Homo sapiens: one gene and its partner. The protein of the gene in region 1 interacts with the protein of each later gene in a pairwise test. Each region holds a gene or a part of one and is shown in the gene's direction. Other genes may lie near its edges. The genes, in order: TUBGCP4 and CHIC2.

The links.
Region 2: the proteins of TUBGCP4 (region 1) and CHIC2 interact in a two-hybrid assay, tested with the Homo sapiens proteins (one large-scale study listed by BioGRID and IntAct).

The regions. Positions count from the first base shown.
Region 1 is NC_000015.10:43,394,814-43,398,638, forward strand, and holds part of TUBGCP4 (gamma-tubulin complex component 4), read left to right. Parts: intron 1-293; coding exon 294-344; intron 345-769; coding exon 770-875; intron 876-2,400; coding exon 2,401-2,508; intron 2,509-3,224; coding exon of another isoform or gene 3,225-3,227; coding exon 3,228-3,366; intron 3,367-3,825. UniProt on the Homo sapiens protein: Component of the gamma-tubulin ring complex (gTuRC) which mediates microtubule nucleation.
Region 2 is NC_000004.12:54,012,566-54,016,390, reverse strand, and holds part of CHIC2 (cysteine-rich hydrophobic domain-containing protein 2), read left to right. Parts: intron 1-2,271; coding exon 2,272-2,328; intron 2,329-2,494; coding exon 2,495-2,554; intron 2,555-3,825.

The DNA.
Region 1 (3,825 bases):
ATTGTAAGTTTCCTGAGGCCTCCCTAGAAGCCAAGCTGAAGCCACCGTGCTTCCTGTGCAGCCTGCAGAACTGTGAGCAACTCAACCTCTTTTCTTCATTAATTACCCAGTCTAAGGTATTCTTTACAGCAGTGTGAGAATGGAATAATACATTGATTGTTTTGAGTAAATTTTTCTATGTGGGGCAAGGTATAGTCTTCTTTTAATACATTGCTGGATTTGTATGGAACCATTCTTTGCAGGAGTTCTCACTGTAATGAAATTTGTCCCTGTTTTGTTGGTTGTTTTCATAGCATCTCTGGAAGTTGATGGTAGAAGAATCCGATTTACTGGGTCAGCTGAAGGTAATGGCTTAGCTGTTGTAATTCTTACGGTGATGCTGGTAGGCAGTGACTTGCATTCTCTGATGTTTCCTGAGAGCACTGGTTGCCTATACCCAGACTTCCAGAGTCAACTCATTTGTTCTTATCCAAGTGAGCAAACTATACCTAATGCCACAAATCTACGATAATACAAAGATTTGGGAGTGTACTTTTTTCTGGCATATATATATAATTATGTTGCTATTGAATAAATAATGCCAAATACACACCAGTCATCCTGCTATGCGGAACTAAGTATGCCTCTTTGAAATGCCAAATGCCTGTATCTTTTGTAGCTTGGGCTCAAATTGATGAAATTAGAAATTACTGTATACATGTAATTCCTCAGGACAGTGAGGAGCTCCTGCCTTGCTTTACTGAATTGTAAATTGAAATTCTTTCCTCAGATCATTAAAGACTTTTACCTTCTGGGACGTGGAGAACTGTTTCAGGCCTTCATTGACACAGCTCAACACATGTTGAAAACACCACCCACTGCAGTAACTGAGCATGGTAATTGTCAGTGGCCCTGAGAATGATCAACTGATTGACATTGCAGGGTATTTCTTGGCTGCTGCTGACCCTTTTAAGGCCTGCTCCACATAAGAGCAGCCTGATGAGTTACAGAGCAGTGGCTTCCAGAGATGGAAGGCTCTTGCAGGTAGGCTTCATGCTGGGGTCATTGGGAACAGTGTCTTGGCCTGTGACCCTTCCTGGAAGAGTTGGTTCAGGCCTTCAAACCAGGTATTTTTTCTCATTGGATTATAGCCATATATACTTTATGGGCCATATTGGGACTTAGTGCTGCTTGTAGTTTTGCAGTAGAATTCTTTAGGTGTGAATGATGGAAACTCACCCGAACTAGCCTAGTTAGGAAAGGGAAATGGATTTGCTATTGTATCTAAAACCCCAGTGGGAAAACTTCGATTCATTCTCTCTCTCTCTCATTCACTCATTCACCACATCTTGTTTGTGTCTCTTGTGAACACTTTGATGACCTTCTGGAAACATGATCACAGCATCTCCCAGGAATATGCCTCACAGTGTCCTCTACGGAAGGAACTGAACCCAGTCCCTCTTGTTGCAAGTTAGAGAATTCTAGGGAATTATCTAGGTTTTGATTGGCCCAGCCCACATCACATCCCTATCCCTGTATCAGTCAAAGAGGTCAGACACTAGGCTATGCCTAGTTCAGTGAAGAGTCTACCCCTTGACCCACTGATGTCCATTCCCATTCATACTGCATGAGTAGAGTTGGGTAAGGATCCAAAAAAAGAAACTGTGAGAAAGAAAATACATACACACAGGCTGATCATTTTTCTAACTCAGTAAAACCATAGATGTCCACTGTACTTATATAGTACAAATATAAGTACTTGTGGTTGCAAATATCAGAAAATCCAATTCAAACTCACTTAAGCAAAGCAAAAGGAAAGAAATAATGTATTGATTCTCATAACTGAAAAGCTCAGACGTATGATGGTTTTCGGCTAAGTTTGATCCAGTGACAGGTGTGGCACCTTTAGGACTTGGTCTCTTTCCATCTTCTACCTCTTTCTTCTCAGACAGGCCTGCTCTGTATGGTAGCAAGATAGTCTCTAGCCAAGTTTACATCCTACTAAGCCCCTGTTTATCTTGAAAAAAGAGCTGGACTCTTTTAGAGTCTGAATAGAGCCTCTGGATTGGCCTGGCTTGGTCATGTTAATATCCCTAAACAATATAGCATAACAAAGTAGAGTATTACATTCCATTTGATCATGCCTACATCACCCAGCTACCCCTAGAATCAGGTGTTGTCTAGCACTAACCCACTGGAAATATGTGAACTGTACTGAATAGGGATGATTCTCCAAGGAAAATCAAGAGGCAGTTTGTCAGCAAGAAGAGAAGGATGGATGGGTGTTAGACAAATGAAACAGATGTCCACTGTGTCCTGCTGTTAGCATTGAGCATGTTGGGGGAGAAGTGGAAAGCTGGAGGAGTCTGGGTTTGTTATGTAGCCAAGCGTCCCTGTCAGCCTGCGTGTTCTTTCTTGCAGATGTGAATGTGGCCTTTCAACAGTCAGCACACAAGGTATTGCTAGATGATGACAACCTTCTCCCTCTGTTGCACTTGACAATCGAGTATCACGGAAAGGAGCACAAAGGTTTGCCATTCCTCCCTGCCACCTTAGAGTTCCTGCTGGTCATCATCCATTTTCCCATCTCTGCTTCCATCCCCCGCCACAGAAACCATATGATTTTGGATCTTAGAAATCAGCTAGTACAGTACTATAATTCTATAGAGAAGAAAAGGAAAGTCCAGAAGTCCAGAGAGGCTAAGTGAGATGCCCAGGCCATGTTTTGGGGGAGTTGGTTTTTTTGGTGTTTTTTTTTGTCATGCTGCTGGAATGGTGCCTGTTTATTTCCAGCCCCCAGATTTTAAGGCTGAGGAAAGAATCTCTAGAAGACCTCCCAAGAGAACCTCACATAGAAGTTTCCTTGCCCCCTTCTTAGTGTCCCCTGTAAGCTTCTGACATCGCAGACTCCATTGAGCTCTGTTGCTTTTCTTTTGGAGACAGAGTCTCACTCTGTTGACCAGGCTGGAGTGCAGTGGCACAATCTTGGCTCACTACAACCTCTGCCTTCCAGGTTCAAACAATTCTCATGCCTCAGCCCCCCTGAGTAGCTGGGACTACAAGTGCGTGCCACCATGCCCAGCTAATTTATGTATTTTTAGTAGAGATGGGGTTTCACTGTATTGCCCAGACTGGTCTTGAACTCCTGTGAGCTCTAGTTTCATTAATGTTATTCACTTGTTGAGTCTCTGGTTCTAGATTAACCAAGTTGTTATCTTTTCTTTTTTTCTTTTCTTTTATCACAGCAGATGCTACTCAGGCAAGAGAAGGGCCTTCTCGGGAAACTTCTCCCCGGGAAGCCCCTGCATCTGGCTGGGCAGCCCTAGGTCTTTCCTACAAAGTACAGTGGCCACTACATATTCTCTTCACCCCAGCTGTCCTGGAAAAGTGAGTATTTCTGAGTTTCTCACAGGTAAATATGACCCACCTTACTTGTAAGGGAAGAAACTAGCAGGAACAGAATTAGTGGGAAAGCAAGGTGTGGTGGCACACACCTGTAATCCCAGCTAGTCCAGAGCCTGAGCAGGAGGATCCCTTAAGCCCAGGATTTCAAATCCATCCTGGGCAACATAGTAAGACCCCCATCTCATAAAAAAAAAAAAAAAAATTAATGGGAGCAAGAGAGCCACCCAACTAGTTTTTAACAATCTGTAAATCAAAAATTGTAAACCCTTATGCCTTCAGGGGCTAGACTGATCACATTAATAAGTGAAGCCACAGATATGAGACACGGAGTTGGAATCAGTGGGAGGGCATATCTACTTCAAACCATCATTTTTTTAAATTGCCAAATAATAAGCAGTTTGTTGGCTGCCAGTTTGTGAGCTCTGGAAAATAAGGTCTTAG
Region 2 (3,825 bases), on another chromosome or scaffold:
CAAATACTAGTAGTTGATTTAAGTTAAAGTAAATATTTTTAAGTTTTAAAATTGTGTGTATGTATGTGTCTATATATCATAATGAGATCTATTCTTATTATAGCATGGGTTTAAACTTCTGATGAAATGATGGTGGTAACTACATTTTTTTCTTTAAGTAATAAGTATTTGCAGAATGTAGTATTAAGCTTTTGGGTACTATTTTATACATTAATATAAAACAGTGGGCTTGGAAAACTTGTTCTGCTCTAGTTCTTTCATCATCCACCCACCCCCAAAATCATCAGTAAAAGTAAAACCTCAAATTGTATAGTAATCTTAATCTATTATTAAAAGGCCCTAGAAAGAAAGATTACAAGGTAGATTCAGGTTTTGAATCGGTTTTGCCATTGGTTTAGCAGCGGGTGGGCAGGCAGATGCCTGCTCAGAGTAGAACCTATTGCCATTTTTCACCATTGATAGAGTAGCCTTTCAGAGTCAATGAGCTCTGTCAATGTGAGCTTGTCAAGGCTACAACTTCATAGACCTGAGAGGCGGTTTGAGAGGTCAGCCCTTTTCAGGTTCGCTGTGATGCAAATGAACTTTAATGCTTAAACAACTATTGGAATTTTTATGTCTGCTCCTTGTTCTTTTTTCTTCACAAAGTCATTGACGAGACATTCAGTGCTTTTTAAATTGGAAGTTGCATTGTGCTAAAGACCTAGTACAGATTTACGGAGGGCTGAAAGCAGTTAGATCATGTTCTTTTCATGGTGCGATTAGAATCAAATCGATTTCCCTACAGCCTTCAGCATTCAGATGGCAATTTTAACAAAGCTTGGGGGCTAGACAAGGGACAAAACGACCGAACTGAATGTTAATTACACTCTGCAGCCTTATTTTCTTTTGATTTGGGGCTGACTGGCAACTAAATTAACAAAAAGTGTGACCATAACTGCTGCCCTATTTTCATTTAAAAGGAGAGCTGCCTCTAAAAGGCTATCTTTACAAAGAAACAAGTGAGGTCTGCTGATCATTGTTAACAAGGGCACTTTTTTTTCTTTAAAATTCTTGCCAAAAAGACTCTTCAGAAAAAGTAATGTAATAAATTAGTCATTGGCATATTATTACCCAGGGAAGTAGTTGATTTTCCGATTTTTATGACATAAGCTTGGAAAATGTAAGGCAGTAGTCGTAATTCATTGGTAGTTATGAATTATAATTGGCATCTATGTGACTTTGGTGTGTCTTTAGCATGTTTAATATGCTAAAAGGTAATGTAACTATTTAAAGTAGATACTTTAAATACATATTAAAATTTTATTATGTAACATTAAACTGTTCAAACCCAGCTTGATCCTAACAGTTTTTCACCTAGCTAATCCTTGCTTGACACGCAAATTTTCATATTTGATTACTAGTACTTCTTTATACCACATTAATAGTGGTAAGATGTTTTTTTCTTTCTCTTGCAAGAAAAGTGCAGCTGAACCAAGTTGCAAGTTGATCCTGGTGGCAACACTGTCATTTTTGCACCTGCAGCTGTGTCAGTCTCATCCTAACACCTGGCACCATGAATTACCCTCTTTTATTCATATTCTCAAGCAAGAAACATTTCATGCAGCATAGCATATCTTGCAAAAATCAACTGAAGTAAATTCTCAGTTGATTCCTGAAACAGTAGTATTGAATTAAGAGTTTGATTTTACTATCAGATGACACTTTTATGTTGGTTTAAATAAAATTTTGGCTCTGTTCAAAAAATCTATTGGTAGAATAATCAGTAAGCTGGCTTTTAAATATGGGCATTATTTTAAGCATGATGTGAAAATTAATTTGATTTTATAACTCATTGATTTTTTTAATATTCCAATTTTTTGTTTTGGAACTTACTGAAAGGCCATTTGCATTTTGTTAACTAATATTTACTTTTGTTTTAAAATATGTATTAAGGAACTTCCGTTACTATTTAAGTATTGGAAACATTTTTGAAAGAAGTGGGAATTTAATTTTATTTGGCAGATGACATTAGCTTTTTAAACCTTGATAGTTTTAAATCAGAGGCTAGTAAAAAAAGATTCGTATGATAAAAATAAAGGCATATCTTTTTTAAGAAAGAGTACTCTTTTGTGTTCAGGTTACCATTTAGTGCTTAGAACATCGATAGTGATGCACACCACACTATACTCAGTCACTGTCTTATACCTCTCCCCTTTTCACAGAAAAAGCAGCTGCAAAACAAAGTTTTCTAAAACCAGTCAAGAGTAAACTTTTTTCTCATTTGTCTTCCAGACACGAAGATCGATTGAGAAGTTATTAGAATGGGAAAACAATAGGTTATACCACAAGGTGAGTACCACAGGGAGCAGCTTCGTACTGTTGGGGTCTGAATTGCACAGTATGGAAACAGATGCTTTTGTTGAACTAAAAATATGAAAGGTGGACAAATGGGTTAGTCTGTGTGCTGCAATAAAATAGAGCTCATTTTTCTTCTTTTACTTTCCTACTTGTCTAGCTGTGCTTGCATTGGAGACTGAGCAAAAGGAAATGTGAAACGAATAACATGATGGAATATGTAAGTTAAAGGGCTGTTTTGTGAGTTTCTCTATTAAATGATCATTTATTTTGCTTCTGATCTTATTCTTTCCATGATTATTAATCAGCAAAGGTGTCAGGAGCTTAATCTCCTGAGTGCAAGGATTTTCTACGGTTCACAGATGCATGGTTTCATGTGCAAGACTGATTTATAAAGTTATGAATGACTTGAAAACAAGGCTTCACTGTGTTCTGAAAAATAATAAATTAATTGCCAAGATAAAATAGCCTGAACATGTGTTGATGGAGTGTGAAATTTTAGATGCTGTATAAAGAATAACCACAACTTTGGTTACGCAGCAAGTCAGATATGGCTTTTTTATATAATGCTAATCAAGTTTCCAAGTATGGAAGAAAACCTTTCAGCCAAGCCATTGGAGCTTAAGAAACCTTTACCCTTTATAGATTTTAACTGCCCGTACCTCAGTGCCCTTTAAAGAATCTCTTTTAAAGTGTTATTAGAATACTGCTTTGTAAAAATTAAAAGTAAGCAGGAGATGAGATGTTGATCATCTTGTGTTTACTTGTTAAAAAATATCTAATTTGGCATATATATACAATGAATTTTAGAACTTACTCAGCATGGGATTTAATTTACTGACTCCATGATTTACTTGAACAGTTTTTCTCCTTTTGAAAATTTCAGAATACTCTAGAAAATTAAGAATTTTAATTCTCTTTTGAGCTTGGATATTTTATTTTAAATATGGCCAGGTTATTACTTTAAAAGAAAAGATCTAAGGAAAAGTTAATAGTTGAAAATAAAACTCAGAGCCTTTGTGAAGTACCTGTTACAACATTTCTGAGGAATTTTGTCTATTCTTTAAAACAATATAGCCATCATAGATGTGTGCGTGTGTATGTGTAAAATATTGATTAAAACAGTGTTTAGTTGTAAATTATCATAAAATCATTTTTGTCTGTTAGCATTTTCCTGTTCTTTCATTATCCCACAGTCAAATCCTATTTCTAGCCTTGAACATAAAAAATATTTTTAAAATGTCTTAGACTAGCTTTATTCAATGAACCAAATAATGTAGATTTTATCTTTACTACATCAAACATGTTAATGTATGATGATGAGAAAGACACTTGATACTTCTTTATAATCATAACACATTTGAGTAACTCATTTTGAGGTGAGGAGACTACTCTTGTATTTTCATCTTAGATAGAGGGTTTATGTATATATTTTGGGGAGAGGGATGGATAGGAGATGTAAAGAATTTAGTGAAAAAAATATTTACTACA